Linked DNA regions of Homo sapiens. The protein of the gene in region 2 purifies or fractionates together with the protein of the main gene of each other region. This does not show direct contact. Each region holds a gene or a part of one and is shown on either strand. Other genes may lie near its edges.

What was found.
Region 1: the proteins of LYPD6B (region 2) and PLXDC2 purify together in Homo sapiens (affinity purification with mass spectrometry; one large-scale study listed by BioGRID and IntAct). This does not show direct contact.
Region 3: the proteins of LYPD6B (region 2) and SEMA3B purify together in Homo sapiens (affinity purification with mass spectrometry; one large-scale study listed by BioGRID and IntAct). This does not show direct contact.
Region 4: the proteins of LYPD6B (region 2) and CHRD purify together in Homo sapiens (affinity purification with mass spectrometry; one large-scale study listed by BioGRID and IntAct). This does not show direct contact.
Region 5: the proteins of LYPD6B (region 2) and KCMF1 purify together in Homo sapiens (affinity purification with mass spectrometry; one large-scale study listed by BioGRID and IntAct). This does not show direct contact.
Region 6: the proteins of LYPD6B (region 2) and COL6A1 purify together in Homo sapiens (affinity purification with mass spectrometry; one large-scale study listed by BioGRID and IntAct). This does not show direct contact.
Region 7: the proteins of LYPD6B (region 2) and FBLN1 purify together in Homo sapiens (affinity purification with mass spectrometry; one large-scale study listed by BioGRID and IntAct). This does not show direct contact.

What each region holds. Positions count from the first base shown.
Region 1 is NC_000010.11:20,284,932-20,288,431, reverse strand, and holds part of PLXDC2 (plexin domain-containing protein 2 isoform 1 precursor), read right to left. Parts: 3' UTR 1-3,500. UniProt on the Homo sapiens protein: May play a role in tumor angiogenesis.
Region 2 is NC_000002.12:149,045,199-149,048,698, forward strand, and holds part of LYPD6B (ly6/PLAUR domain-containing protein 6B), read left to right. Parts: intron 1-3,500. UniProt on the Homo sapiens protein: Likely acts as a modulator of nicotinic acetylcholine receptors (nAChRs) activity. In vitro acts on nAChRs in a subtype- and stoichiometry-dependent manner.
Region 3 is NC_000003.12:50,275,097-50,278,046, reverse strand, and holds the end of SEMA3B (semaphorin-3B isoform 1 precursor), read right to left. Parts: intron 2,746-2,950; coding exon 2,588-2,745; intron 2,488-2,587; coding exon 2,432-2,487; intron 2,343-2,431; coding exon 2,203-2,342; intron 1,746-2,202; coding exon 1,341-1,745; 3' UTR 501-1,340; downstream 1-500. UniProt on the Homo sapiens protein: Inhibits axonal extension by providing local signals to specify territories inaccessible for growing axons.
Region 4 is NC_000003.12:184,386,554-184,390,053, reverse strand, and holds the end of CHRD (chordin isoform 1 precursor), read right to left. Parts: coding exon 3,299-3,500; intron 3,210-3,298; coding exon 3,116-3,209; intron 3,004-3,115; coding exon 2,947-3,003; intron 2,681-2,946; coding exon 2,577-2,680; intron 2,124-2,576; coding exon 2,021-2,123; intron 1,468-2,020; coding exon 1,313-1,467; intron 1,162-1,312; coding exon 1,059-1,161; intron 688-1,058; coding exon 632-687; 3' UTR 225-631; downstream 1-224. UniProt on the Homo sapiens protein: Dorsalizing factor. Key developmental protein that dorsalizes early vertebrate embryonic tissues by binding to ventralizing TGF-beta family bone morphogenetic proteins (BMPs) and sequestering them in latent complexes.
Region 5 is NC_000002.12:85,026,661-85,030,160, forward strand, and holds part of KCMF1 (E3 ubiquitin-protein ligase KCMF1), read left to right. Parts: intron 1-1,228; coding exon 1,229-1,396; intron 1,397-3,500. UniProt on the Homo sapiens protein: E3 ubiquitin-protein ligase which accepts ubiquitin from an E2 ubiquitin-conjugating enzyme and then transfers it to targeted substrates, promoting their degradation by the proteasome.
Region 6 is NC_000021.9:45,998,770-46,002,158, reverse strand, and holds part of COL6A1 (collagen alpha-1(VI) chain precursor), read right to left. Parts: intron 3,263-3,389; coding exon 3,200-3,262; intron 3,007-3,199; coding exon 2,941-3,006; intron 2,503-2,940; coding exon 2,467-2,502; intron 1,829-2,466; coding exon 1,792-1,828; intron 1,401-1,791; coding exon 1,392-1,400; intron 907-1,391; coding exon 773-906; intron 199-772; coding exon 89-198; intron 1-88. UniProt on the Homo sapiens protein: Collagen VI acts as a cell-binding protein.
Region 7 is NC_000022.11:45,540,883-45,544,382, reverse strand, and holds part of FBLN1 (fibulin-1 isoform D precursor), read right to left. Parts: intron 3,155-3,500; coding exon 3,011-3,154; intron 2,229-3,010; coding exon 2,100-2,228; intron 983-2,099; coding exon 857-982; intron 1-856. UniProt on the Homo sapiens protein: Incorporated into fibronectin-containing matrix fibers. May play a role in cell adhesion and migration along protein fibers within the extracellular matrix (ECM).

The DNA.
Region 1 (3,500 bases), on a different chromosome or scaffold from region 2:
GGTCACCGAGAAGTATGGGCTGGTTATTTTAGCATGACAGAATGCAGGCTTGGAATTTCTCCTTGACATGGCAGAAGAAATAGGAATGATGCCCAGAGGACTGGAATAAATTCAAAATGCTTGGTTTTCCAAGTTCTATTTTAATAAACTTCGGAAAATTAACCTTTCCCTGAAAGACACGTCCTTGGTTTGGCACACAGGGCTTTCCAAAACAGTGAGAAACGAACTGGCCATGTGCTGCACTCACACACATAGTCATTCTTTTTGCTTGGGGTTGACTAGGTTCATAGGGCCAGATTTTCCTCAGTGTCCTCTTGTAGCAGTGCCGCAGTGAGCTTTGTGATTCTGACAAAGGGTGCCATTATATCCACTTTGAAATGCATTACAAATATTCTGCATGCTGGTGCAACTGGCATAAAATCTGGAAAGCCACCGCCCCCCCCCCCTCCCCCGCCGCAAGAAGTGCCCAATTTCTTCTCTTTTCACACTTCAACATTTCAAATGACTACACACAGAATTACCAGAAACAGTAGTAAATTCCTGGCATTCGAAGTTCCCATGATCCCAGCTGGCATATAAAAAAGACTCTCTCCTTTTTTTCCCCTGAAAATAATGTACTCTCCAGGCACTGTTGAAATGCTTCAAATCAGGCAAATGAGAGATTTGTTTTGACCAATCAATGAAAAGACTTCCCCCTCTTCTCCGTGAGGGCCCCAAGACTGGGTTACGCCATACACAAGATGTCTGTTTCTAAAGAGACTTCACTGATTTCCCTAAAATGATTTTAACATTTCTTTGCAAGTGAAGCTCTGATGTTGCCTAATGTTATTTTCAGAGTAGCCTGCTGCAGGATGCCTAATTTGAGTTTTTATTTCCCTGCTATAAATGTGACAATCTGAGTATGTTTTCATTCAAACCACCTTGAACATGGTGGCTGAGGCTTCACCACAAATGTCCAGAAAATAGCACTGGAGTCTGTCTGAGTCCTGAGATGGTCAAATCTCAGAGAAATCCAGCTCTGGGCCCGGAAAGGAAAGTGCCATCTCTTAACCTTTCCTCAGGAAAATTATTTTATTGATTTTTTTGCCTTATTTTCATGCCTTTTAAGTCAAAGGAAGATAAATGGAAAGTCTCTTTTTGGTCATTCACTAATTCTCTAGGGCAAGTCACATAATTCTCTAGGACAAAGGCCTCCATGATGTTAGGATGAATGCCATAGAAGAGGTATGGGGGGTGATGGCTGCATTTTAGACTAATCATAGGCATATCCTTTGCTTTCTCTATGTCAGGGGTCTCAGCATTGCTTGCAGAATATGTGCCCCAGTGTCTGGATGTCTGAATGACCTAAATTTGAGCTGGTCATCAATGAGTATTTATTAGCACATTGCTCTTAAGAAGTTAATAACTCGGCCAGGCACGGTGGCTCAGGCCTGTAATTCCAGCACTTTGGGAGGCGGAGGTGGGCGGATCACCTGAGGTCGGGAGCTGGGGACCAGCCTGACCAGCATGGAGAAACCCCGTCTCTACTAAAAATACAAAATTAGCCGGCTGTAGTGGCATATGCCTGTAATCCCAGCTACTTGGGCGGCTGAGGCAGGAGAATCGCTTGAACCTGGGAGGCGGAGGTTGCAGTGAGACGAGATCACGCCATTGCACTCCAGCCTGGGTAACAAGAGCAAAACCCCATCTCAAACAACAACTAAAAGAAGTTAATAACTCTGCCTAATAGCACATTTAGATTTTTATTTTTTTTTCCATGAATCATCTCCATTCACTCACTCTTAGGTTTATACTTTCCCCTAAAATTCCCCCATGAAACTTCTAAAATTAGTTTCATGCTATGTATTTGTTTGATAGGCACAGAAGGTTTACAGCTGCATGGTCAGTAAGCGATACTTTGGTCATGAATGTATATATACATATATATTTGCAATGCTGAGAAAAAGAGAGACTGCTGTTAAAAATCAAAATTCTCGTGGAATGAAGAGAAGCCACTGAGATTTTTTTCAACCAGAATGAAAATAAATAAAATATCACTATCTGCCAAATCAAAAGCTTTTATGTTATTCCATTATGAAAGACATTTATTGAGTAATTTGCAAATGTTAATAAGCCTTAGAAACTAGGAAAAGCTGAGTACTAGTTTATGACTTACATTTAATTTTTTTTCCAGCCTTTTATCCTGGGTTTAAAGTAACACAGAATCTTTCAGTGTCAACAGTGAGCTGGAAATTAACCTATAATAACAAGTTTTGAGCATTTTGCTCCTCCAGGCAAAATTTGGTCACTCATAATAAATATATTATGAAGAAGCCAATGATGATGTATTCCATAAACTTGTTATGAAAAACTGACTCCAGAAATTATGTGACTTTACTTGAATAATTACCATTTTACTTCTCTACAATAATCATTGTGAGAGCAGTGGGCATTGGATGGTTGAAAAGTTATTCCAGACAATAATTAGGCAGATGTATTACAATTTAAGTTGAGGCTAGATCAACTTAATCAAAACCTTAAGAAGTAATACCATGTTATGATATGACAATGGTAGAACAGGAAATTATAGACACATTTGAGGCTGGAGTTTTCTGATTTCCCTGATTGTCTTATGTCTGGGATGGTCTAATAAATGACATAACCACCACACACACCTAAAGTGCAAATGCTTTTTTGATACACTGGTGTTTCTGAATACCTCAAAACAGTGATATTAATAATTCAAAACCCAATAGAAATATTGGGTCGAGAAATCAAACTTCAACTGTTGCATCTGGTCAGTAAGACTGCAGTGAACTAGAAAGTATTCTTAGGTCAGGGAGAATTTTGAGTAACTTTTTTTCTCACAGATAAAATTAACAGGTCTACAGCACAGACATGCAGTGATATATTATGTTTCAGACACATTCTTCAGGCAAACAGTTTCTAGTTCCCATTTTAAGTAGAATAGAAAATTGGAGTTGAAAATTGATAGAGTATTGTTGATCCTATCTACTTGTAAAGTCTGGTTTAGGGATGTTATTGTATTATAATGATCGGTTACATGCCTGGACTCTCACTACTGTATATCACAAGTTACTAGCACAGTCACTTGGTTCCAGTAGGTGTTCAATAAATATTTCAGTGAACTGAACAGTTAAATAAATGAACAAATAGGGAGATGAATCAAAGTGCTCTGTAAAATGTAAAATGCTTCACAAACATAAGGTAATAGGAGTATATAAAAGGTAACACCACAGACCTCGCATTATCTGCCCAAAAAACCTTATAAGGACAAAAATGTTGTAATAGTTTGAAGAGCAAATAAAAATTGCAATTATATATGTGGTCAGAAAATCAGCTATATAGATCATTCATTTTCAAATATATTTGGGAAGAAATAAAACAAAGGCAGAAAAATTTTAAATGGCCAAAATAAATTGTATTGCTAACTTAGATGGCCACAGATGGGGGCAGGGGTGGAGAGAGGAGAAATTGAAAACACCACAAAGACCCCGCAA
Region 2 (3,500 bases):
CATTGATACAGAATTTTTTGTGGTGTTCTTTTATTAGCCATTTATGTCTGAATGGTCAGTAATAATACTCCCTCTTTTATTCTTGACATTATTAACTTATGTCTTCAGTCTTTTTCTTGCTCAGTCTGTCTAGAGGTTTATCAATTTTACTGATCTCTTCAAAGATCCAGATTTTGGTTTAATTTTGTCTATTATTTTTCTGTTTTCAATTTAATTGATTTCTGCTCTTATTTTATTATTGCCTTCCTTGTCTTTGCTTAGGTTTAATGTACTCTTCTATTTTTTAAGGGATAAGCTTATATTACTGATTTTTGTTTTAATAGAAGTATTTAATGCTATACATTTCCCTCTAGGCCTTGCTTTAGCTGCATTATACAATTTTGAAATGTATATTTGAATTTTCACTTAGTTTAAATATTTTAACATTTCTTTTGAGACTACTTATTGACCCGTATGTTATTTTAAAGTATATCATTTAATTTTAAGATATTTGGGGATTTTCTAGAAGTTTTTCTGTTATTGATTTCTAGTTTAAATCTTTTATTATCCTAGAATATGACTTGCATGATTTCTGTTCTTTTAGATTTGTTCATATTTGTTTTATGACCCAGAATGTGGTTTATCTTGGTGAATTTCAATGCACACTTGAAAATATGTGTATTCTGCTATTGATGGGTGGGATGTTCCAGAAATATCAATTAGGTCAAGTTGCTTGATAGGGTTGTTCAGGTCTTCTGTGTTCTTATTAATTTTCTGCTTGTTTTCTCTATAACCAAGAGAGGAATGTTAGCATTTCCAGTTACAATTGTGGATGTATCTATTTTTCTTTTTACTCATATCACTTCTTACTTCATGTATTTTGACTCTATGTTGTTAAGTGCATACACATTTAGGGTTGTGATGTCCTCTTGGAGAACATCTTGATCCCTTTCTTATTATGTGATGTCCCTCTGTATTTCTGTTAATATTCCTTTTTCTGTAGTCTGCTTTGGGTGTTAATAATACAGATACTCCAGCTTTTTTTGGATTAATGTTTGCATTGTATATCTTTTTGTGTTCTTTTACTTTTAACCTATATTTAGGTTATAAAATAACCTGTATACTTAAGGTGGCTTTCTTGTGGCAACATATACTTGAGTCTTATTTTTTCAACTAATCTGACAATATCTGTCTGTTAACTGGTATGTTAGACCATTTACACTTGCTATGCTATTGATATGGCTTAATTATAATCTACCATCTTGCTAGTTGTTTTCTATTTGTTCTATCTGTTCTTTTTTTTTCTTGTTTCTTGAGCTTTTTTTGTTGTTGTTGTTGTTTATTTTGTTTTTTGAGATGGGGTCCCGCTCTGTCACCCAGGCCAGAGTACAGTGGCGCAATCTTGGCTTACTGTACCCTCGACCTCCTGGTCTTGAGCATTTTTTTATATTTTCCTTATCTCCACTATGGACTTCTTACCTATGCCTCTTTACATTTTTTTAGTGATTGCTCTAGAGTTAATAATATGTATCTTTAATTAATTAGAGTCTACTTTCAAGTAGTATTATACTGTTTCATTTGTAGTCTTATAGCAGTATATTTACAGTACTTCTCTTTTATGTTTTGTGCTATTGTTATTATCATTTTTTAATATCAGCTATAAATAAAAGATTTTTTGCTTTAGACCAGGGGTCAACAAACTTTTTCTGTAAAAAAGCCAGAAAGTAATTATTTTAGGCTTTGAGGCCATAGATGGTCTCTGTTGCATATACTTTTATTCTTAAACAATTCTTTACAAATGTATTTCAAAAAACATTCTTAGTTCATTGGTTATGCTAAAACAGACCAGGGGCTAGGTTTGGCTTGTAGGTTATAGTTTGCTTACTCCTGCTTTAGACATTCAGTTATCTTTTATAGCAATTAAAATTAAGAGAAAAAATAATTTTGTTTGATTTTCATTTATATCATTTCCATCATTGTTTTCTTTGTGTAGATCCAAGTTTTGGTCTGGCAACGCCTGGATAACTTAATTTAACATTTGTTGTAGTGTAGGTCTCCTGGCAATGAATTCTAAGTTTTTGTTTCTCTTTGATTTCTATTTTTCCTGCATCTTTGGGAGATATTTTACTGGGTATAAAATTCTGGGTTGACAGTTTTTACGCTTGATCTTAGCTAAAAGGCTGAGAAGCAATGGGTTGACAATTTAAAAAAAAAATTCAGGACTTTAAAAATGTTGCTTCATTCTCTTCTTGTATGCCTCTGACAAGAAGTCTTCTGTAATTCCTATCTTTGTTCCTTTTCATTTGATGTTTCATTTTTCTTTTGCTGCTTTCAAGATTTTATTTTTGTCTTTGGTTTTCAGCTCTTTGAATATGATATGCCTGGGAGTGTGTGTGTGTGTGTGTACATGTATGCATGCGTGCACACTCTTGATATTTATCATACCTGATGTTCTTGAGCTCCTTGGATCTGTGATTTGGTATCTGTCATTAATTTTGGAAAATTCTCAGCAATTATTTTTTCAAATATTTCTTCTGCCTATTTTCTTTCTTTTCTCCTGAAATTTCAGTTACACCTAGGTTTGAATTTATGATACAGTCCCACAGCTCTTGGGCACTCCATTCGTTTTTTGCTTGTTTTATTCATGTTTTTTCTCTTCTTATTTAGTTTGGGTAATTTCTACTGATCTATTTTCAAGTTCAATGATTTTTTCCTTTGCTGTATCAAGTCCACTGAAGAATGCCTGTTGAAAGCATCCTTTATTTGTTACTGTCTTTAGCCTTTCAAATATTTCCATTTGATTCTTTCCTGCAGTTTTTCTCTCTGATAACATTTTCCATTTAATCTTTCAGATTGTCTACCCTTTCCACTACGGACTTTTATAATTAATTTTGGTTATTTAAAATTCTTTGTCTGATAGCTTCAGCATCTAGGTCTGGTTCTATTCATTGCAATGTCTTTTCGCAGTATGATCTTTTCTTGCTTTTCTCATGCCCTATAATTTTTTTTTGTTGATAACTAGACATCTTATATAGGACATTAGATATGGAGATAGGCTTTATGCATGGGAATGGGCACGCCGTTCTCTTTTTACCAGGCCTTTAGTGTGAAGATTGATCAATCTAGTCAGAAGATGAACTGGGTTTGAGGGTTCTCATTCCTCTGGTTATTCTCAGTGTACCCCCAGACTTCAAATTCCTCTAGTGATGCCTTGTATTTAGGGTTGGAGCTGGCTTGCCAAAGGCCTTTGCCATTCCCATCTTTTGGTCTTCCTGTGGTACTGGGCCCCAGAGTGGTCTGTCTCCATGCTCTTTCAACTCTCCCAGTGGTAGTCCATTGTTATTTGTGACCCGATGCTTGTTAGTCAGTGTCCAGGTACATCTGCCTCAAGTAGACAAGTGCTCATGTCTTGTCTCTTCCTGCAAGTGCCTCTCTAGATTTTGGGCTAGTTTGTTCTCCTTTGCCTCAGTTTTCTCATGGATTTGAGAAGGTTATGATCTTGTGCTTTACCTGGCTTTTTA
Region 3 (2,950 bases), on a different chromosome or scaffold from region 2:
GTCAGCGAACTCAAATGCCACCCCTTCAGTGAGGCCTTCTGTGTACATTCTTTTCCACATCACCCAGTTTTCTTTTCTTTGAGACAGAGTCTCGCTCTGTTGCCCAGGCTGGAGTGCAGTGGGGCGATCTCGGCTCACTGCAACCTCTGCCTCCCTGGTTCAAGCAATTATCTTACCTCAGCCTCCTGAGTAGCTGGGATTAAAGGCGCGTGCCATCACACCCACCTAAGTTTTGTATTTTTAGTAGAGACAGGGTTTCACCATGTTGGTCAGGCTGGTCTTGAACTCCTGACTTCATGATCCGACTGCTTCGGCCTCCCAAAATGCTGGGATTACAGGCGTGAGCCACTGCGCCCGGTCCAGTTTTATTTTCTTCCTAGCACTTAGTCCTGAAGTTATATTATGCACAATGTACCCTGCGTGTCACTATTCCCAAAGGCCCTACAGAACCTGTTCAGTCACGCGGAACCACCTTTTTTTTTTTTTTTTTTTTTTTTTTTGGAGTCTCGCTCTGTCGCCCAGGCTGGAGTGCAGCGGCGAGATCTAGGCTCATTGCAACCTCCACCTCCCAGGTTCAAGCAATTCTCCTGCCTCAGCCTCCTGAGTAGCTAGGATTACAGGCGCCCGCCACCACGCCCGACTAATTTTTTGTATTTTTAGTACAGACGGGGTTTCACCGTGTTAGCCGGGATGGTTTCCATCTCCTGACCTCGTGATCCGTCCGCCTGGGCCTCCGAAAGTGTTGGGATTACAGGCGTGAGCCACCGCGCCTGGCCGGAACCACCTTTAATCCTCACCAGGCAACCTTGGACAGGAGAAACTCGGGCCCTGACACCGCTAGTAAGGTGCCCAAGACCACATAGCAAGGCCGAGGACTGGGGTTTTCTGCTGGGGCCATTCCAGCTTTGGCTGATAATGCGTTTATTGCGTTACTTTAGTACAGTCGGCCTGCCTCGCCCCACCTCCAGCAGCCCAGCCTGTTCACAGCTTTCTGCTCACTGCTCACTACCCAAGGAGGTGGGGTCTGTCTCCCAGGGTGGGCACTCCAGGCACCTCCTCGGCCCTGGTCGTTGCTCTGGAGCTCGGCTTCCCCGTCCCTTCCCTCCGGCTGAATCCTGCGCCCGACCTGTGCCGCCCTCCCGGGGCTGCTACATTCAAGGGTTATCCTGTTAATAAATAAGCCCGCGCAGCTGCCCTCAGCCAGGGCCTGTCGGTTGGTGTCTCCATCGGCCGGTGACCCCCAATGTGCCCGGCCCCAACCCGTCCTTCTTTTCAGGGTCTGTCTGGCTCCTCTCTCGCCTGTCGTCTCCTGCTTGGTTCCCGGCGTGGGGACAGTCTGGTCACCAGTGCGTTGCGCTGCGCGGCCCCCGCTCAGCGCGAGGCTCAGGGGCGTGGGTCCTCCGGTTACGGCCCTTTCTCCGCGACTCCAGGGGCAGTGACTGCAGCGCAGGCTGCGGGCGGCACATGCGCAGGGAGTTCGCGCTGCCACCTCCGCCCGGCTCCACCAGCTGCAGAAAGTCCCGGTACCAGAGTTTGGGGCCCGGCGGCGCGGCGGGCGCAGCCTCCTCGGCCCGCGCCAGTCGTTCGGCCTGCGTAGCACTCAACACGTGCAGCGACAGGCGACGCAGCGGTTGCGTAAAGCCCTGCTCGACGGCGGCGCACAAGTACACGCCCGAGTCCCGGCGCCGCAGCCTGCGCAGCAGTAGTCCCCGGGCGGTGCGCTCGGTGCGCTCCTCTGCCAGCACCTGCGGGCAGAGGGCAGCGTGAGGCGGGGGTGTCGGGCCGGGAACAGGGCTTCCGGGCCCTAGCACGCGACGGAAGAAGCAAAGAGTCATTGGGAGCCGAGGTGGAGCGGGAAAGGGGTGCCCGCAGGCGCACATTTTAAGGCTGAGTGTTTGGGAGCTGGTGGTCTTCAAGGGAGAATCCGAAAGAGGCGGGGTTTACATGAACTTGGTGGGGGGTGGTCAGGGACCTTAATGGGAGGGTCGAGGGCGGGTCTTCTCCTTGATTCAGGGGAGGCGGGTCGGGAGCCCCGTTGGACGCAATGGGGCCTCAGCAGCTTGTGGAGTGCAGGTGAGGGACCAAACTGGACAGGGCGGGGAGTGGGTCTGGTTGGACGGGGCTTCGTTGGGTAGGGCGGGGCCTCTCCTGGATGCAGGGGGTGGGACAGGAGCCTGGCGGGGAGGGCGGAGTAAGGCTCACCTGGGTGTGGGCTGTCACCCCTGCGCGCTGGAAAGTCCACTCCACGCGCGCCTGCAGCGAGCGGGGCTCACACTCCAGAAAGGCGCTGCTGCCCTCCACGCCGAACACCTTGTGTTCCAGCAGCGCGGGACGAGACGAGTCTTGGGGCGAGAAGAAAGTCAGATTTAGGCAAGGCAGGGCAGGTGGGGCGTCTTCTGGGGCTGAGGGTAGGGGCAGCTGGGGCACTCACCTCCGGAGCACAACGTGCTGGGGTCGCCATTCCTTACGTCTTGCCGCCGGAACCGCCTGTGGGGAACATCCGATCTTCTGTGAGCCCTTCTTTCAGCCCCGGGCAGTGAAAGACCCTTCGCCTCCCTCCCGGCGGCCCAACCCCGACCCCGCCCACCTCTTGGCACTGGGCTGGAAGCGCGTGCACGCGACCCCGTCCCAGGCGCAGTAGGGGTCACGCGCCAGACAGCATTCGGTGCAGACGCGGCCGTGGGCAGCGCAGCGGTGCAACGCGATCTGGGCCACCGCGCTCCGCGAGGCTACGTACAGCTGGTGCTAGGGGGCACGAGGGGCTCTGGGCTGACCGAGGGCGACCCCACGCCTGCCTCCCATCGGTCAGGGATCCCTTCTTCCACTCGACAGATGGGAACACTGAGGTCTTACGCCTCAGGTCACACAGTCTAACAAAGCCAGAGCCTGTACTCAAACCCGGGACTGCAAACTACCAAAAGGGGCCAGAGGCTTGGGACGCGCCAGGCAC
Region 4 (3,500 bases), on a different chromosome or scaffold from region 2:
TACTTCCCTAAATTCTTGAGTCTCTAGACCATCTCAAGAACCATCCCCAGCCCCTCTGCGGAACCCAGGCATGCCAGCCAACTGCCACGCTATCCTCTGCCTCTCCAGGTCTCTTTCAGCTCCCCAAGTGTCAGAGCTCCTCTCTCTCACCTCCTACTCTCTGCCCCTTCTCCACCAGGCCCCACTCAGGTTCCTGGCCACAAAGAGCCAACCTCATGCCCAAAGACTGAAAAAGAAATGTTTTAATAAATACAAAACTCTCCAATAATGACTCTGCTCAGCTCAGGGGCAGCAGGAGTGGAGTGTCGGGGGCCCTTGGTGCTGAGTGAAGATAAATTAAAAATCCCAACAAGCCAGTGACATTATGTACAGGAGGAAAGGGGTGGGGCTTCCAGGACAGAGGCCGAGGGTGGCAGGGCAGGACTTGGAGTGGCTGTGACCTCGGTCTGGCCCAGCTGCCTCTCCCCCTTGTGGAGCTGTGGTTCCCAGAGGTAGTGGGGGTGGGAGTAGAGGCAGGACAGAGGAGCAAAGGCACTGGGCTTCCCACAGGAGAATGCAAGAAGGTCCTCGATGCCACCCCTTCCCCAGCTCAGGCCCCATCCTCTTGGTCACTTGGCCCTCTGGCTGCTCCCTAAGAGCCTTCGGCTTCTTTCTCCAGCTCTGGATCAGTTCTGGTCTCTGGGGCTGCTGGAGACAGAAGGGAGGGAATGTTGGAGGAGGGGAGAGGGAGTGGAGAGGCACAGAGAGGCATAGAGGGCAGGGCAAAGCATCCCTGCCTTGGTCCCAGAAAGGCCAGTATTTTCTAAACAGGTCAGTGCACACAGCTGGGTGACCTTCATCTCGTTGCTTAATTTCTCTGAGCTTCAGAAATCTCATTTGTAAAGAAAAGGTCATAAATAACAATTCCACCAGGTTGCTGTGAGGGTGGATTGGAATGGCACTTGTGAGGCAGGCTGCACTGTTCCTGCACACAGTGAGTGCTCCCTTCCCTGATCAGGAGTCCCACAGGCAGGTGAGCCCTCCACTCACAGCTGCTGACCCTGGACTCCCTCACTTACGCCGCCGGTGGGCCGTGCAGCGGGAACAGCATCGACTCTCCTTCCCCGAGCCACAGGACAGTGGCAGTGAACAGTCATCCCGCTCACAGTGAGGCACCCCTGCCTGGTACAAGACAGAGCAGACACTGAGTGTCCCCCAGAGGCACTGGGACACAGTGACCTTCAGCTTCTTCAGGGACCTCCCTGGGAAGGTCTCCCTACTCCAGACCAGGCTCCCAGTACCCACCTCACACAAGCCTCTGCTCCCCACTTACCCCACATCTGCAGGTGATACAGCTCATCTCTCCAAAAGGGGGCACTGAGGGGTGCCAGCTCTGACTCTCTGGGAACCACTGCCCAGCAAAACGGCAGCCCCGGGGCCCATCAGCCTGCATGGGGTCCCCCAGCTGGGGGTGGGCCCCCGACCCCACTGTTGAGAGGGAAAGAGAAAGGATCAGCCCAGGAGGACCAACAAGGTTTTATGAGTATTCTCTTTGAATACCCAGCACGTTGCAGTTTCTGGCACTTAGTAGGTGATAAATTTGGATGGGTGGGTGGGCAGATGAATGGATGGATGAAGGGACGGATGGATGGATGGATGGATGGATGGATGGATGGATGGATGGATGCATCAATGGGTGGATGGGTGGATGGATGGAGGGATGGATGGATGCATGGATGGATGCATCAATGGGTGGATGGTTGTATGGGTGGATAGATAGATGAATGGACGGATGGATGGATGGATGGATGGATGGATGGATGGATGGATGGATGGACGGATGGATGGAGCAGGAACCAGAACCCATCATACCCCACTAGTATATCACATTCTTTCCACTGCATTTAGAGTCCTGGCTCCAGGCTAGGCACAGAGCAGTGCTCAGTATAATGCTCAATTAACTGAGCACCCTTCCCCTCACCCAGGACAAAGCCTGCCTCAACCCAAAGGTGAGGCCTCAGTGCTCAGCCACCTCTCTCACCTGGACACTGTTTGCAGCAGTCGGTGGGGTTGACACGCACAGGCTGGGCACAGGCCAGCCGGGGACACTGCACCTTCTCACAGTGCACCTCTCCAGTGCCCCCCTGTAGGGATCCATTGAGCAAGGAGTGTCAGGCAGGGGGCACATAAGCCTCCTGCCCACTCCCTCTCCTATTCCACACCTCAAATGCAGTCTCTCTGTGGCCTTTTACTCAGAGGCCCGGACTGGCTTTATAGACCTAAACTCAGCTCCTCATCAGAACCCTGCAAGGTAGGTGCCATCATATCTGCTTACAGGAGAGGAAAGTGAGGCTCAGGGACAGAAGGTGCCTAGGGTCACTGGCACTAGTTAGCTGGCAGAGCCAGAATCCACACCCAGGTCAGCCCTGTTCATTTTCCCACAGGAAGCCGACTCTCAGAGCGCAAGGGCCTTTTCTCATATCGTTTTGATTCTTGAGCCCTCCTCACCAAGGACGGGCCTTCCTCACCTGGCAGCCCCTCCCCATCTCTGCAGACCCCGCTGGGTTATGGCACCAGAGAAGATTGGGTGGCCATACCTTGCAGGTGCAGACAGCACACTTAATTAAGCCAAAGGGGGGCACAACGGGGTGCCACCGCGTACCCGCTGCCCGCCAGCTCCGGTCACCATCAAAATAGCAGCCTGGTGGGGAACAGGGCCCAGCAGCCATTAGTATGAGCTCATCAGCTGGGCCCACAACCAAGGCTTGAGCCTCAGGCCACCCCCACACGAGCCTAAGCCAAGGGCCCACCTGGGGGCCAGTAACACTAATGAGTCCTGTCAGGCATCACTTGGAATCTGTGCCCCTCAGGCCACCCCCTATATACTCTCCCCTTCTTGTCCCCCTCCTGGTTCAACCTAATGGCTCCTCTGGGGCCTCCCACCCTGCACGCACCCTTCCAGCTCACCCTCTCCTGGGTCCCGGCTCCTTGGCAGCCCTGGCAAGTCTCTGACATCTTGTTTCTCTGTGGAGCCAAAGAAATGGTGAAAGCAGAGAGTGACCACCCTCATTCCCTCCCCAAAGGACCTGTCCGCACTGGGCCAACTCCTCCCTCCACTCCCCTGCGGGGAACTCACCAGGGCAAACAGGGCAGCACTGGTCGGGAGCCTGCACCGGGTGTGGGCAGCTGGGCGGTGGGCACACCACCGGGTCACAGATCACCGTTCGTCTCTGCAGAGAGGAGCAGAGGCATTGACGGGAGTGTCCAGGCCCCTTGCTCCAGATCCCAGGACCCAGTGTGCCCTTCCAGGACCTCCTACCTGGCAGGTGCAGAGTGAGCAGAGCGGGTCGTAGTTGGGCGCCCAGCGAGCCCCGTGGGGGCGCTGCTGCCCCTCGAAGAAGCATGTGTTGGGGTCTCGGGGCCGCCCAGGACCACCAGGTTTGGCGGGCGCTAGGGCCGGGAGACCAGGCACCACAGGCGGCGCAGCAGAGGCTGTATCCGGAGCCCCCAGCGCCCGCACC
Region 5 (3,500 bases), about 64 Mb from region 2:
AAATTTTTTTGTAGACAGGATCTCTCTATGTTGCCCAGGCTGGTCTTGAACTCCTGGCCTCAAGCCATCCCCCTGCCTCGCCTTGCCAAAGTGCTTGGGATTATAGGTGTTAGCCACCACACCCAGTTATTTCTTTTAACAGGTCAAGAATTATTTGATGCCCCAATTCTGATATGAACTCATGACTGATTCTGCTGCTCCTGCTAGTTCTTTCTGATGGTGCTTTGTTTTTTTGTGTGTATTTTATGGTTTAAATTATGAACTTATTCTTTGGATGTTTATATATGCCAGATGCTTGGTATCAATTCTAATTTAAGACCACTTAAAATTCTTGACCCAAGGTCTTTGGAACCATTTGATAGAATTTGGGCTATAAACCCATGAGGACTGGTTTGTGGTTATGGCTTTTTGTGTTATTTTGTGCCCCTAGGGCAGGGGGCTTTCACTGGGGTAATTTTTGTAATCCCCTAGGGAGGATTTCTAGCCTACCCATGCATTGAGAGTATATTAGGGTCTTGGTTTTATGAGGAATCTTCTGTTAATTATCCCACCTTCACTAGGCCTTTGTCCAATAATGCTGTGGACCTTAAGCTTAGATTTTTACCTGCTTGGGCAAATACCCTCATGGTGAAAAGCCTTCTTTAGTGCTTCCAGTCACCAGTTCCTCTTCGTCTTGGTTTTTACCTTCTTGCTGGCTTATCAAGGCTTTTTTTTTTTTTTTTTTTTTTTTTTTTGAGACAAAGCCTCACTCTGTTGTGAGGCTGGAGTGCAGTGGCGCGATCTCAGCTCACTGCAACCCTACCTCCTGGGTTTAAGCAATTCTCATGCCTCAGCCTCCCAAGTAGTTGGGATTACAGGTGCCAGCCACCACGCCCAGCTAATTTTTGCATTTTTAGTAGAGACGGGGTTTCAACATGTTGACCAGGCTGGTCTTGGACTACTGACCTCAAGTGATCCACCCGCCTCGACCCCCGCAAAGTGCTCAGATTACAGGCGTGAGCCACTGCACCCAGCCTGTATCAGTCATTTTAAATTATTTTCATGTGGAGTATAAATCAGAGTAATGAATCCAGCACATGGCTAAAACTTCCCGTATCATTTTACTAAGTCATTTCTAGTCATTTTGGAAAGGACATATGAGGTTAAATGAGCACCTGAAACATTCATAAAAATGAAATCAAGAGTGGCCTTTACAACTGGTAACTAAAGATATTTCTTTTTTTTATAGGTGTCAGCTGTGATGCATGTTTAAAAGGAAATTTTCGAGGTCGCAGATATAAGTGTTTAATTTGCTACGATTACGATCTTTGTGCATCTTGTTATGAAAGTGGTGCAACAACAACAAGGCATACAACTGACCACCCAATGCAGTGCATATTAACAAGGGTAGATTTTGGTAAGTAATTAAAAATTTAATGAATTACATCATTTAGAATTTTATGTACGTTGAAGAAGTAAAGGCAAAGTGTTCTAAAACTCCCCAGCAGCATACCATAAGCCCCAAATTCATTAAACATGAAATAAATCTTACTTTTTTTTGAGACGGAGTTTCGCTCTTGTTGCCCAGGCTGGAGTGCAATGGCGCGATCTTGGCTCACTGCAACCTCCACCTCCCTGGTTCAAGCAATTCCCCTGCCTCAGCCACCCGAGTAGCTGGGATTACAGGTGCACACCACCACGCCTGGCTAATTTTTTTGTATTTTTAGTAGAGACAGGGTTTCACCACGTTGGCCAGACTGGTCTCGAACTCCTGACCTCAGTCAATCTGCCCGACTCAGCCGCCCAAAGTGCTGGGATTATAGGCGTGAGCCACTGTGCCTGGCTTTTTTTTTTTTTTTTTTTTTTTTTTTGAGGAGTCTTACCCTGTCGCCTAGGCTGGAGTGCAATGTCGTGATCTCAGCTCGCTGCAACCTCCACCCCCCAGGTTCAAGCGATTCTCCTGCCTCAGCCTCCCAAGGAGCTGGGATTACAGGCGTGCACCACCATGCCCGGCTGATTTTTTGTATCTTTAGTAGAGATAGGGTTTCACCATGTTAACCAGGCTGGTCTTGAACTCCTAACCTAATGATACACCTGCCTCGGCCTCCAAAGTGCTGGGATTACAGGCGTAAGCCACCGCGCCCGGCCTTACTTTTTACGTACTAAGTAATTCTGTCTGTTCATCTTAATCATAGTTTACTTGTTTAAAAAAACCATTCAGAAATATACACAACTGACAAGGAATGAAATAGAAGAGTGCTTCAGTAAAGAAGAAATATGCTCTGTCTTTTGTTCGTGCTATTAACACACAAATAATAGCTTTATTTTATTTTATTTTTTATTTTTTTAAGACAGAGTCTCACTCTGTCGCCCACGCTGGAATGCAGTGGCCGGATTTCGGCTCACTGCAACATCTGCCTCCTGGCTTCAAGCAATTCTCGTGCCTCAGCCTCTTGAGTAGCTGAGACTACAGGTGTGTGCCACCTTGCCCAGCTAATTTTTTTGTATTTTTAGTAGAGATGAAGTTTCACTATGTTGGCCAGGCTGGTCTTGACCTCAAGTTATCCACCTGCCTTCGCCTCCCAAAGTGCTGGGATTACAGACGTGAGCCACCATGCCCAGCAATAATAGCTTTTGTAGTGACCAGAAAACAGATTGTTGGCTGGTTATGGTGGCTAACGCCTGTAATCCCAGCCCTTTGGGAGGCTTAAGATGGTCAGATCACTTGAGCCCAGGAGTTTGAGATGAGCCTGGGCAACATGGCAAAAACCCTGTCTCTGCATCCACCCCCGAAAAATACAATAAATTAGCTGGATGTGGTGGCGCACATGCATCTGTAGCCCTAGCTACTTGGGAGGCTGAGATGGGAGGATCACTTGAGCCCAGGAGGTCAAGTGTGCAGTGAACCCTGATTGTGCCACTACATTCCGGCCTGGCCAACAAAGCAAGACGCTATCTCAAAAAAAAAAAAAGGCAGATTGTTTCTACAGTTGATTAGAAGACATTGTAAGAAAATATATAAATGTTTCATGCTATAATTTTTTTTTTTTTTTTTTTTGAGACAAGAGTTTCACTCTTGTCGCCTAGGCTGGAGTGCAATGGCGCCATCTCAGCTCACTGCAACCTCCACCTCCTGGGTTCAAGCGATTCTCCTGCCTCAGCCTCCTGAATAGCTGGGATTACAGGTGCCCGCCACCATGCCCAGAAAATTTTTTTTGTATTTTTAATAGAGACAGGGTTTCACCATGTTGGCCAGGCTGGTCTTGAACTCCTAATCTTAGGTGATCCACTTGCGGGCCTCCCAGAGTGCTGAGATTACAGACATGAGCCACCACGCCTGGCTTCGTGCTATAATTTCTTACCTAGCCCACACTTTTTGTCCTTTTTATTTCAGCCATCCTAGTAGGTGTAAAGTAGTATCTCAGGTGGTTTTGATTTATATTTCTCTGAAATATAAATTATGTTGAGCATCTTTTCTTGTGCTTATGGGCCATTTGTATATCTACTTTGAAGAAATACCT
Region 6 (3,389 bases), on a different chromosome or scaffold from region 2:
ACCTGGGATCAGGGGTCAGGGCCGACCTGCCGTGGGAACAGCGGTCGGGGCGAGGGGTGGGAGGGTCCTGGCCGCGTGGGGCACTCACTCCTTGAGCTCCTGCACGTTCCGGATGCTGGGGCTGCGCAGGCTCACGTGCTCCTGCATCTGGCTGTGGCTGTACTGCACCACACCCGCGTACGACTGCCCTGGCTCGAACTGTGGGACCGGCACCGGGGTCAGGACGCGAGTGCTGCCCCAGGTCCGCATAAGCTTCCCAAGGGTGACTCTATTGGCTGCGGGTGCCCAGAGGGTGGCATGGCCCCCAGGACCTCAGGACCTGGGTCCCCTGCGATTGGCTCTGGGTGCACAGAGGGTGGCACAGCCCCCGGGACCTGGGTACCCTGCGATTGGCTCCGGGTGCCCAGAGGGTGGCACAGCCCCCGGGACCTGGGTACCCTGCAAAGCAATCTTCCTTGGTGGATGAAGCCCTCCTGGGTTCTGTCCACGAGGGACAAGCCCACACCCAGCACTCAGGACCCCAGACTACCGCCCTTCAAGGAGAGGGGGAGACCCTCCCTCATCTGGGGCGCCTGTGTACAATGGGCCAGCCTCGCCAGGTGGAGCTGGAGGCCTGGACGGGCTGGCGCGTGCCTGGCATCCTTGTCATGAGTAGGGAAGTCACAGGGATGCAGCGGTGGCCTCGGGAGGCTGAGGTCTGGCGCGGGCAGGGGCGGCCGGCAGGGTCGGGGTGCACCTGGGCTTGAGAAAGCCGGGCGGGGCGAGGCCTCACCTTGACCAGCTCGTCCCGGCTCAGCCGGTCGATGACCTTGACGACGAAGTCCTTGGCAATCTCGAAGTTCTGCAGGCCAATGCTCTCTGAGCTGTCCAGCACGAACAGGAGGTCGATGGGGCCGCACTTGCATTCTGCAGGCGGGGGCGGTGTCAGCAGAGCACGCCCCTCCCCTCCAGTGCCCTGGCCCCTCCCCTCCACCGCCCTGGCCCCTCCTTGGCTGCCACATCCTCACCTGACACGTTGGGGTCCCCCCGTCTCAGCCCCAGAAAAGCCCACCCCCTCCCATGGCCCCGTAAAGGCTGCTCTGTCCGGCGGCTGGTCAGGGCTGGCGTTGCTCAGCCAGGCTAGGGTGGGGCCTGTGGGCCAGAATGATGGAGCAGGGACCCCCCCAAGCCTGCTCCTGGTTATTTCAGTTATGGGTGAAAGAGGGCGGGGCCCAGCCCAACACCCGGGAACCCTGCTGGCTTGGAGCAGGCCCCAGAGGGGGCGGGCAGGTGCAGGGAGCTGCGGGCGGGGACCAGAGTGCCATGTGCTGTCCTGTGACATGTGTGGGACCCAGGCCTCGCTCCCCGACCCCCGGGATCCATTCTCTCAGGAGCTAGAGCCTGGGTCTCACCACAGCAAGCTGAGGAGAAGAGAAAGAGTCAGTTAGACCAGTCAGGGCCGCGTCCTGCGCACGTCAGAAAGGCTTTTACTCTTGGGGCAGCCTCCCCGCCTCCCCGGCCGCCCTCCTTCCCCGGCCTCCCCCCTTCCCCGGCCTCCTGCCCCGCCTCCCCGCCTCCCCGGCCGCCCTCCCCACGTGGCAGCTCTGCACCGCACCGGGGACTCTCAGCCTGTGCGGGGACCCGGGGGCCTGGGAGGGCTTTGGAGGCCGGTAGGGGCTGGCTGAGGAGCCTCCTCAAGGATGTACCCAGAGACCCAGGCCCCCAACAGTGGAGACACCCTTCTAGGAGTGGAACAGGCCAGGCTGGCGGCCCTGCTCTCCCTAACGAGGACGGCTTCTCAGAGATACTCACAGCACATTTTCATGATGATGTCCAAAATCTCGCATTCCTGGGGAGGGAGAGACGAGGGTACTGGGGCCATAGACAGCCCCTCCCAGCGGGGACTGTGGGCTGCTGGATCTCCAGGTCACCCTCCCTGGGGCCCCCACAGGGCGGGGTTTGGGCAGGAGGTTCTTTGCAGGTGTGCCCGGCTCTGCCCACTACACCCCTGCTACTGGGCTGGACCCCTGACGTGGTCATAGAAACAGCGCAGTCATGGGTCTCCCCGTGGCCGTCACGGGTCCCCTCATGGTCCTCATGGGTACAGGTCCCCCCATGATCCTCACACGTCCCCCCCCATGATCCTCACACGGGTCCCCCATGATCCTCACGGGTCCCCCATGATCCTCACATGTCCCCCTCCATGATCCTCACGTCCTCCCATGATCCTCACACGTCCCCCCCATGATCCTCACATGTCCCCCATGATCCTCACATGTCCCCTCTATGGTCCTCACACATCCCCCTATGATCCTCACGGGTCCTCCCATGGCCGTCACGGGTCCCTAGGGCCTGGCACCAGCTCTTTGTCCACAACCCACCCCCCCGTGAGCAGCGTCTACAGGAGCACCCATGGACAGGACCCACACCCCAAGGGATGGAAGCTACAGTGGTCGCCCCCAGCAATGTTCACAGAGCCCCACTTACGTCCGGCCCAGGCGGTCCTTGGTGTCCTGGGGGTCCCTGTCCGAGAAACGGAGTAGAGGAGCTCTGAGGGTGAGGAGCCCACTGTGCTTCCTGAGCTGAGACAGCCCCCACCCCCAGGGCCCTGCCCCTCATCAAGCCCACCCCTGCCCGGTCCCTCCCTACCCAGCCCCTCGTCCTCCAGTGACGGTGCTGTGAGGGCAGCTGGGGCTTCGCACACTGGTGGTCCAGGCGGCCATCCCAGGTGGGCCCCACCCTGAGGACCCGCTGTGTCCCTGGGCTCGGCTCTGCTGCCCTGGCCACCACCTGGCCCTGGTGACCGGCACCTCCCACCCCCAGGGCCTCCCAGATGACGTGCTCCCCAAAATTCCCTCCCGCCGCCTCCCACTCTCCCAGCCTCTTCCAGCATTCCCCAGCCCCAGCATCCGGCGTCCCAGGCACAGCCCACCGTGGCCTCACCCAGCCACATCCACCCACCTGGGGGCCCTCGGGACCCCGGTACCCCTTTGCTCCTTTGACTCCTCGGGGTGCAATGTCGTTGTTCTAGAAGGGAACAGCGTTGTGTCAACAGACCGTGCACCACCCGGGCATCTGCGCGCTGGCCCCGTCCACAGAGCATCCAGCAGCCGGGGCCCATGAGGCCTCCCCAAGCGGGTCCTGGTCCACTGCCCTTCAAGGGCCCAGCCCTCTGGCTCAGGTGGACTTGGGGCTGGCCCTGCCTCCCATCCACACTTACATCGTCTCCGGGGTCCCCGGCTTCTCCCTCGTCCCCCTTGAGGCCGGGGTAGCCCTTCGTGCCCTGCAGTGACGGGAGAGCACTTGGTTAACAAGGGTTTTATTTTGTTTTTAGGAAGTGGAAATTTTAAAAGGAAAAAAATAAAGATAAGAGAGGCACTCTTCTCTTCCCTTCCCCCACCACACACATT
Region 7 (3,500 bases), on a different chromosome or scaffold from region 2:
GGGCGCGGTGGCTCACGCCTGTAATGCCAGCACTTTGGGAGGCCGAGGTGGGCGGATCATCTGAGGTCAGGAGTTCAAGACCAGCCTGGCCAACATGGGGAAACCCTGTCTCTACTAAAAATACAAAAATTAGCTGGGCATGGTGGTGTGCACCTGTAATCCCAGCTATTCGGGAGGCTGAGGCAGGGGAATCGCTTGAACCCGGGAGGCGGAGGTTGCAGTGAGCCGAGATCGTAGCATTGCACTCCAGCCTGGGTGACAGAGCGAGACTCCGTCTCAAAAAAAAAAAAAGAAGTTAGAGGCAGGTGCACAGTGACCCACGCCCTAAAGGCCTCAGTACTTCCTCTCACAGCTCGTCATTTACAAAGCCTCCCTCCTTTTGTTTGGGTGACTTGAGATCAATGGACACAGAGGCCTGTCTCCCCTAGGCAGCATCTGATTAAAACCCACACACTGTCTTTGTGCAAAACAAGTGTCCAGTTTTCGCTGCTGTTTCACACATCAACCCCTCTCCCCGGGGAGGACACGGAGGCAGGGAGAGGTCGGGCATAACCAAGGCCCTGTGACTCGTGGGTGTCATGCTCCAAGCCCCATAATCCTAGCCACATCCCGCATGGCCTCTGCCGCAGCCTATGAACCCCGACACGGCCTCGGAGGGTGGATGTCATCAGGAGAAATCGGGTGGGCAGGCGGGCAGTCCTCTCTGATGAACAATATTTTACAGGCACTTCCCCTGCTAACATGTCATTTAACAGGGAAACCATCGCGGATCTGCTGCAAACCGGTCTGCAGAAGGGTGGCTTCCCCAGGAGGAAGGTGACCTGGGGGAGGTGAGTGGACGGGGCCCCAGCCTCACCTTCACATGACCTGCCATCCACAGAGAGCCGGAAGCCCACGGAACAGCTGCAGAGGTAGGAGCCCAGCGTGTTCTCGCACTTGTGGCCACACAGGCGCCCGGGGTAGCGCTGGCACTCGTTGACATCTGAAAGTGAGGGGTGGGCTGACTCAGGGCAATGTCCAACACAGTGGCACCACACTCCACCCTCCTAGTAAGGCCAGCTCATGTCCTTTGTCCTCCACCTCCTCCAGCCTCATTTCTTTTTTTTCCTTCATCTTTGAGATGGAGTCTCGCTCTGTCTCCTAGGCTGGATTGCAGTGGCATGATCTCAGCTCACTGCAACCTCCGCCTCCCAGTTCAAGTGATTCTCCTGCCTCAGCCTCCCAAGTAACAGGGATTACAGGCATGTGCCACCACGCCCGGCTAATTTTTGTATTTTTTGTAGAGATGAGGTTTCGTCATGTTGGCCAGGCTGGTCTCAAACTCCTGACCTCAAGTGATTCACCTGCCTTAGCCTCCCAAAGTGCTGGGATTACAGGCATGAGCCATCGCGCCTGGCCTCCAGCCTCATTTCTCAGACAAGGAATGCAAAGTGACTTGTCCCGAGCATGCGGGAAGTCAGTGGGAGAGCCGGGACTGCCGCGCTGTGCCTGCCTGGTGGGCGAGCCTCGTGCTCCTTCTGCGGCAGCACATCTGAACTTGTGCCCTCCTGCCAGTCCTCCTCCCCAGGACCCACAAGGAGGGTCTGCCAGGATCTAGCAAAGTGCCCACTTTGGGGGAGTGGTTGGCAGCTGCCAGGCTTCCCTGAGCACCTAGGTTTGGTGACAGCAGGCACTGGCTGGACAAGACCTGACCCCACTCCTGGTCAACTTTTCCCCTCGCTGCCCTGGGCTAAAGGCACACATCTCTAGCTCCTGGGGATCTACAGCTCAGCGGTGAATCTCCAGGAAATCGCTGATGCTGCCCACATGTGTAGACCTGGCTCATCAGCACTTGGAGGTCCTGGGTCAAGCAGAACCCCTTTCCACAGATGGGGAGCAGGCTCACACACAGGGGGGTGGTGCCAGTGGCCGCCTGGCTGGGCAGTAGCAGAGCTGGGGCTAGAATGGGGTCTCCTGACTCAGGATCTTCTCTCAGGGTCTGCCTGCACTTGGGATTATCTGAGATGAGGATCAGACCACATCACTCGAGGTGCCACAGAAATGTGTCCCTGGTGCCACGTGGCTGGGTTCCCCCGAGGCCTGCGGGGCCCCCCACGCACCGACACACATCCTGCTGATGCCGTCAAAATAGTAACCCGTCTTGCATTCGCAGCGGAAACTGCCGGGAGAGTTCACGCAGCGATGTCCCTTCCCACAGGGCTCAGCAGGTGGCGCGCACTCGTCCACATCTTGCAAAGGAGAAAGAAAGCCATGATGAAAACCTTTAGTTTGGGTTTTTTCCCCCCAAGATGATCAGAAAGGAAAGCAAGAAAGGAACACATGGACATGGAAACAGGCATTCCATTTCAACACGACTTCACAGAGCACCTACTGAGTGCCGGGCCCTGGACTGGGAAGATAGCTGACCCAGAGGCAGCCCTACCTGGCTGGCAGGCCAGCAATGACTCTCATTAAGGTAGGAAGTGCCCAGGAACCCAGGGAGACACTGAAGAAGTGTCCTGGGGGTTATGCGAGGAAGGCTCCTTCCCTGGCGGGATCTAGGCAGGCTGGGTGCCCTGGATCCAAAGGAACGTAGGAGCAGGTGGGCAGAGGGAATGACGTGAGAGCAAACACCCACACAGAGAGGAAAGGACAGTGCTTGTGTGGGGAGTGGCAGACCCACATTGCCTGAATTACAAGGTTTGTGGAGTTGGGCCAGCTCTGGGGGACTGGACTGTAAGCAGAGGCATCCATCCTTTGTCACCAACGGGGAGCTGATGGAACTGTAAACAGGGTGGGGTGCGAGAGCTTTGGGCTCAGGACAAGCCAGACAAGGCTGAGGCAGTAGACGGGCTGGTGCACCAGTCCAGGCAAGACAATGAAGCCCCATGCTTGGGAACTGACAGTGGGATGGATGGGCTGATAGAAATGGCTTTGCTTTGGGGATCAACTTTCTGCTTCCAGAGAAGGCAGGGTGCATGCTGGAAGCAGACAGGAAAGTGGATTTCAGATTTGTTTTCTTAATACCAACCAACACAGCGCGTTCCCTCCTCGTTGAGATGGTAGCCACGGCCACAGTTGGGCACGTTCTTCTGGCACGTGTAGGAGCCCTCTGTGTTGATGCATGTATGCCCGATAGGGCACGGGGCACTGATACTCAAACACTCATTGATATCTACAGCGGGAAAAGACAGAGACCATGTGGTTAAACCTGGAGGGTGTCCCAGAACCCAAAAACTGGATCTCCAAAGAAACTCCCCTTCCCACCTCTTTGCAAAACCACAAATGGAGGGGCTCAACCCCCTCACTCTGGACCACACAGCCGCCTCCCAGCTGGCTCCCAAATTTTATCACTGCATACCGCCTCAAACACCACCTCTCTGGCCCTTCTTCCTGTCCCTAAATCTCCAGCACCTCCATCGTTCGCTGCGCCAAATCGGGACCTGCCTGCCTGGCTTCTCCTGCATTCATCTACTCCACACACTGGGCACGGTATTAAGGAGACAGGTGACTGTCCACGT